2 linked regions of the Homo sapiens genome follow. The protein of the gene in region 2 interacts with the protein of the main gene of each other region in a pairwise test. Each region holds a gene or a part of one and is shown on either strand. Other genes may lie near its edges.

What was found. Proteins that work in one complex are often made in the same cells at the same time.
Region 1: the proteins of RCN3 (region 2) and PRUNE2 interact in a two-hybrid assay, tested with the Homo sapiens proteins (one large-scale study listed by BioGRID and IntAct).

Annotation. Positions count from the first base shown.
Region 1 is NC_000009.12:76,703,579-76,707,182, reverse strand, and holds part of PRUNE2 (protein prune homolog 2), read left to right. Parts: coding exon 1-2,422; intron 2,423-3,083; coding exon 3,084-3,604. UniProt on the Homo sapiens protein: May play an important role in regulating differentiation, survival and aggressiveness of the tumor cells.
Region 2 is NC_000019.10:49,537,899-49,541,067, forward strand, and holds part of RCN3 (reticulocalbin-3 precursor), read left to right. Parts: intron 1-1,109; coding exon of another isoform or gene 1,110-1,220; coding exon 1,221-1,281; intron 1,282-3,169. UniProt on the Homo sapiens protein: Probable molecular chaperone assisting protein biosynthesis and transport in the endoplasmic reticulum.

The DNA of each region.
Region 1 (3,604 bases), on a different chromosome or scaffold from region 2:
ATAGAGGAAGAGATCCAGGTGGCCAACTGCCACGTTGCTGAGGATGAATCCAGAGCTTGGGATTCATTGAATGAATCTAATAAGTTCTTGGTCACAGCTGATCCTAAGTCTGAAAATATTTATGACTACCTAGACAGCTCAGAGCCAGCAGAGAATGAGAATAAGTCAAACCCATTCTGTGACAATCAACAAAGCAGCCCTGATCCCTGGACTTTCTCACCATTAACGGAGACTGAAATGCAGATTACAGCAGTGGAGAAGGAGAAGAGATCTTCTCCAGAAACAGGGACAACAGGAGATGTTGCATGGCAAATATCTCCCAAAGCTTCGTTCCCAAAGAACGAAGATAATTCTCAACTGGAAATGCTGGGCTTCTCAGCTGATAGCACTGAGTGGTGGAAGGCCTCACCCCAGGAAGGGAGACTAATTGAAAGTCCATTTGAAAGGGAGCTGTCTGACTCCAGTGGTGTGTTGGAGATAAATTCTTCAGTACACCAAAATGCCAGTCCCTGGGGAGTACCAGTTCAGGGTGATATTGAGCCCGTGGAAACACACTATACTAATCCTTTTAGTGACAACCATCAGTCACCCTTTCTGGAAGGTAATGGGAAGAACTCCCATGAGCAACTCTGGAACATTCAACCAAGGCAGCCAGACCCAGATGCTGACAAGTTCAGCCAGCTTGTAAAATTAGACCAAATTAAAGAAAAGGACTCAAGAGAGCAAACCTTTGTGTCTGCTGCTGGTGATGAGCTGACTCCTGAAACACCTACCCAAGAGCAGTGTCAGGACACCATGCTGCCAGTCTGTGATCATCCGGACACAGCCTTTACTCACGCAGAGGAAAATAGTTGTGTTACATCTAATGTTTCAACTAATGAAGGTCAAGAAACAAATCAGTGGGAACAAGAAAAATCATACCTAGGTGAGATGACAAATTCAAGCATTGCCACAGAAAATTTTCCTGCTGTCAGTTCTCCCACCCAACTGATAATGAAGCCAGGCTCTGAATGGGATGGCTCTACCCCAAGTGAGGACTCCCGAGGTACCTTTGTGCCAGATATTTTACATGGCAACTTTCAAGAGGGTGGGCAGCTGGCCTCTGCCGCGCCTGACTTGTGGATAGATGCTAAGAAGCCCTTCAGTTTGAAAGCAGATGGTGAGAATCCTGATATCCTGACGCACTGCGAACATGACAGCAATTCTCAGGCTTCCGACAGCCCTGATATATGTCACGATTCTGAAGCAAAGCAAGAGACTGAGAAGCACCTCAGTGCTTGCATGGGACCTGAAGTGGAATCCAGTGAGCTTTGTCTCACTGAGCCAGAGATAGATGAAGAACCCATTTATGAGCCTGGACGGGAGTTTGTCCCATCCAATGCAGAACTCGATTCTGAAAACGCAACTGTGCTGCCTCCAATTGGCTATCAAGCAGACATAAAGGGCTCCTCTCAGCCCGCCTCTCATAAAGGTTCACCTGAACCTTCTGAAATAAACGGTGACAACAGTACAGGTTTACAAGTATCAGAAAAAGGAGCCAGCCCAGATATGGCACCAATTTTGGAACCAGTTGACAGAAGAATCCCAAGGATTGAAAATGTGGCAACTAGCATTTTTGTAACTCACCAAGAGCCAACTCCAGAAGGTGACGGTTCTTGGATATCAGACAGCTTTTCTCCTGAAAGTCAGCCTGGTGCAAGAGCTTTGTTTGATGGTGATCCACATTTATCCACAGAGAATCCTGCCTTGGTTCCTGATGCTTTGCTAGCCTCAGACACTTGTCTGGATATAAGCGAAGCTGCCTTTGACCACAGTTTCAGCGATGCCTCAGGTCTCAACACATCCACGGGAACAATAGATGACATGAGTAAACTGACATTATCCGAAGGCCATCCGGAAACGCCAGTTGATGGGGACCTAGGGAAGCAAGATATCTGCTCATCTGAAGCCTCGTGGGGTGATTTTGAATATGATGTAATGGGCCAGAATATCGATGAAGATTTACTGAGAGAGCCTGAACACTTCCTGTATGGTGGTGACCCTCCTTTGGAGGAAGATTCTCTGAAGCAGTCGCTGGCACCGTACACACCTCCCTTTGATTTGTCTTATCTCACAGAACCTGCCCAGAGTGCTGAAACAATAGAGGAAGCTGGGTCTCCAGAGGATGAATCTCTGGGATGCAGAGCAGCAGAGATAGTGCTTTCTGCACTTCCTGATCGAAGAAGTGAGGGAAACCAGGCTGAGACCAAAAACAGACTGCCTGGATCCCAGCTGGCTGTGCTGCATATTCGTGAAGACCCTGAGTCCGTTTATTTGCCGGTAGGAGCAGGCTCCAACATTTTGTCTCCATCAAACGTTGACTGGGAAGTAGAAACAGATAATTCTGATTTACCAGCAGGTGGAGACATAGGACCACCAAATGGTAAGAAACATTCCATTCTTCCACTTCCAAGAAACTGCTGCGTTGATTAAACTAGTGCATATTTGTAAGACACACTCTTCCTACCAATGAGGGTAGAGAGAAAACTAACTACATTTTCAAGGCATGCCTCACTAAGTCCTGTATTATAACAGCAGTAAAATCTAGTGCATATGTAATACCTATTCCTGATAGTGCACGAGAAAATCGAATGACTCTACAAAATAAAAATATTTTCTAGCTGGGCGCGGTGGCTCACGCCTGTAATCTCAGCACTTTGGGAGGCCAAGGAGGGGGGATCACCTGATGTCAGGTGTTCGAGACCAGCCTGGGCAGCATGGTGAAACCCCATGTCTACTAAAAATACAAAAATTAGCTGGGCGTGGGGGCAGGTGCCTGTAGTCCCAGCTACTCGGGAGGCTGAGGCAGAAGAATAGCTTGAAACCAGGAGGTGGAGGTTGCAGTGAGCCGAGATCACACCATTGCACTCTATCCTGGGTGACAGAGCGGGACTCTGTCTCAAATGAATGAATGAATAAATAAATAAAATATATAAAAAATATTAAATTACCTCTTTTAGATGATCATTTGCAAGGATCACAAATCACACAATGTGTTAATTAAACCTTTTTCTCCTCTTCTCACTTTCAACTTCCACTTCTAGGTGCCAGCAAGGAAATATCAGAATTGGAAGAAGAAAAAACAATTCCTACCAAAGAGCCTGAGCAGATAAAATCAGAATACAAGGAAGAAAGATGTACAGAGAAGAATGAAGATCGTCATGCACTACACATGGATTACATACTTGTAAACCGTGAAGAAAATTCACACTCAAAGCCAGAGACCTGTGAAGAAAGAGAAAGCATAGCTGAATTAGAATTGTATGTAGGTTCCAAAGAAACAGGGCTGCAGGGAACTCAGTTAGCAAGCTTCCCAGACACATGTCAGCCAGCCTCCTTAAATGAAAGAAAAGGTCTCTCTGCAGAGAAAATGTCTTCTAAAAGCGATACGAGATCATCTTTTGAAAGCCCTGCACAAGACCAGAGTTGGATGTTCTTGGGCCATAGTGAGGTTGGTGATCCATCACTGGATGCCAGGGACTCAGGGCCTGGGTGGTCTGGCAAGACTGTGGAGCCGTTCTCTGAACTCGGCTTGGGTGAGGGTCCCCAGCTGCAGATTCTGGAA
Region 2 (3,169 bases):
AAAGTGCTGGGATTACAGGCATGAGCCACCGTGCCTGGCCCCAAAATGTGCTTTGTTCTATAGAAGAAGGCTTTTTTTTTCTTTCCTTCCTCTTTTTTTTTTTTAGTTTTTGAGACAGGGCCTAACTCTGTTACCCAGACCGGAGGGCAGTGGCTCAATCTCAGCTCACTGCAACCTCAAACTCTTGGGCTCAAGTAATCCTCCCACCTCCGCCTTCTGAGAAGCTGAGGCCACCAGGCACAAGCCACCATGTCTGGCTAATGTTTTTTTTTTTTTTTTTTTCAGACGGAGTCTCGCTCTGTCGCCCATGCTGGAGTGCAGTGATGCGATCTCGGCTCACTGCAAGCTCTGCCTCCCGGGTTCACTCCATTCTTCTGCCTCAGCCTCCCGAGTGGCTGGGACTACAGGCGCATGCCGCCATGCCCGGCTAATTTTTTTTTTTTTTTTTTTAGTAGAGACGGGGTTTCACTGTGTTAGCCAGGATGGTCTCGATCTCCTGACCTCGTGATCCACCCACCTCGGCCTTCCAAAGTGCTGGGATTACAGTTGTGAGCCACCACGCCCGGCCATGCCTGGCTAATTTTTAAATTTTGTGTAGAGACAGGGTCTCGCCATGTTGCCCAGGCTAGTCTCAAAATCCTGGGCTCAATCGATCCTCCCGCCTCGGCCTCCCAAAGTGCTGGGATTACAGGTGTGAGCCACCGTGCCCAGCCCACAGTCTTATAGTGAATGAGTTTGGATATAAATTGGGGAACAAAAGTCGTTTTGCTCCAGAAGGGCACAAAAACAAGGAGCGGAGGTGTCCAGTGTGTCAGAAGAAGCCCCAAAGTGCACCATGTTCACACATAAAGCAGAGGTAGGTTCTAGGCTCTGCTAAACATAAAGGAGCTTCTCCCCTTGGAGGGTGTTTGCTGGGGCTTGAGCAAGTTATTAGGGACCCAGGACAGCTCCCCTTGTGAGCAACAAACCTGTGCACTGCTGGACATTAGGGCCTCTGGGCTCTGGCCCCGTAAATGCAGGTGGTGCCTGTTTGATGATAACATCCCAGAAAGCCCGCAAATTTCCCACATGCCACCTGTTGAGACTGCTCTACTGCCTGCCTCCCACAGCTGCCCGGAGCTAAATTTCCAAGAGAACCTCTCACTCTTACCCCAGGGGTCCAGCCTCCCCCAGGAGCCAGGGTCATCGGCCCCCAGCCTCAATGCCCCTTTCTCCTCCAGGAAACCCTGGAGGACCTGGACAGAAACAAAGATGGCTATGTCCAGGTGGAGGAGTACATCGGTGAGTGGGCCCCAATTTCTTCTTGGGATGCCTGTCCTCTCTCAGGCATGGGCAGGGTTGGTGGGGGTAGCCGGAGGTACATCACCCATCATCAGAGAACAGTGGCCCTCAGACATGGGGGCAGGGGCACTCACTGCTTGAGTTCATTTAGCCACCCAACATTTATTGAGCACCTACTCTATACCAGACACAAAAAGCATCTATTGAGCACCTGCTGTGTGTCACGCCCAGGATACACTTACTGAGCACCTACTGCATATGGGTGGTTGCGCCTACAGCAGACAATAACACAGACAAATCCCTTCTTGGGGGTCTGGAGTTTCTACAAAATCAAGGCTCAGGGGCTATGTTTAGTTGAGAATGGGGGTCAGGAAGCTGGTCTTGAACCTGCGCCTGCACAGCAAACACTGTTTCCTGTTACATGGGATGTTGGGGGATCCTCACAATACCCCCTGAGTTCTGAGTTCTCCCTGGGCCCCTGCCACTGTCCCTGCCCCTAGCGGGCAAAAAATTTAGTCAAGGAGAACGCTAACAAGGAATTTTTTTTTTTTTTTTTTTTTTTTGAGACAGTTTTTTTCTGTTGCTCAGGCTGGAGCGCGGTGGCGTGGTATCGGCTCTCTGCAACCTCCGCCTCCCGGGCTCAAGAGATTCTTCTGCCTCAGCCTCCTGAGTAGCTGGGATTACTGGTGCCTGCCACCACGCCTGGCTAATTTTTGTATTTTTAGTGGAGATGGGATTTCACCATGTTGGCCAGGCTGGTCTAGAACTCCCAACCTCAGGTGATCTGCTCATCTTGGCCTCCCAAAGTGGTGGGATTACAGGCGTGAGCAACCACGCCCGGCCAGGAATTTTTTTTTAAGTTTGAAAACATTGTTTATTCTTTTATTTTTTTCTGACCACATCCTACATGAGAAAACATTTTTCTTTCTTTCCTTCTCTCACTTTCTTTCTTTCTGTCACTCTTTCTTTCTATCTGTCTGTCTGTGTGTGTGTGTGTCTCTCTCTTTATTAAATAGAGATGGGTTCTCACTATATTGTCCAGGCTGGTCTAGAACTCCTGGGCTCAAGCAATCTTCCCACCTTGGCCTCCCAAAGAGCTGAGATTACAGGCATGAATCACCACACCTGGCTGAGAGAACATTTTTATATTTTTTTCTTAAGAGATGGGGTTGGGCCAGGCGCAGTGGCTCATACCTGTAATCCCAGCACTTTGGGAGGCTGAGATGGATGGATCATGAAGTCAGGAGTTCGAGACCAGCCTGGCCAAGATGGTGTACTAAAAATACAAAAATTAGCCGGGCCTGTTGGCAGGAGCCTGTAATCCCAGTTACTCTGGGGACTGAGGCAAGAGAATCTCTGGAACCCGGGAGGCAAAGGTTGCAGTGAGCTGTAATCGCGCCATTGCACTTCAGTCTGGGCAACAAGAGCGAAACTCCATCTTAAAAAAAAAAAAAAAAGATGGGGTCTTGCCCTGTCGCCCAGGCTGGAGTGCAGTGGGGTGATCTTGGCTCACTGCAGCCTTGACCTCCTGGGCTCAAGGGATCCTCCCACCTCAGCCTCCCAAGTAGCTGAGACTCCAGGCACAGTGCGGCCTCTGGAGATACTTCTGGTTGTCACTTCTAGAGGGGTGAGGATGCTACTGACGTCTCCTGGATAGAGCCCAGAGATGCTCCTTAGCATTCTCCGGTGCACAGGACAGGCCCTGACAACAAGGAGGTCACAGGCCCCAGATGCCAGCAGCTGTCCCCATCTCTTTTTTTTTTTTTTTGAGACAGAGTCTCGCTATTGTCGCCCAGGCTGGAGTGCAGTGGCATGATCTCGGCTCACTGCAACCTCCGCCTCCCAGGTTCAAGCAATTCTCTTGTTTCAGCCTCCTGAGTAGGTGGGA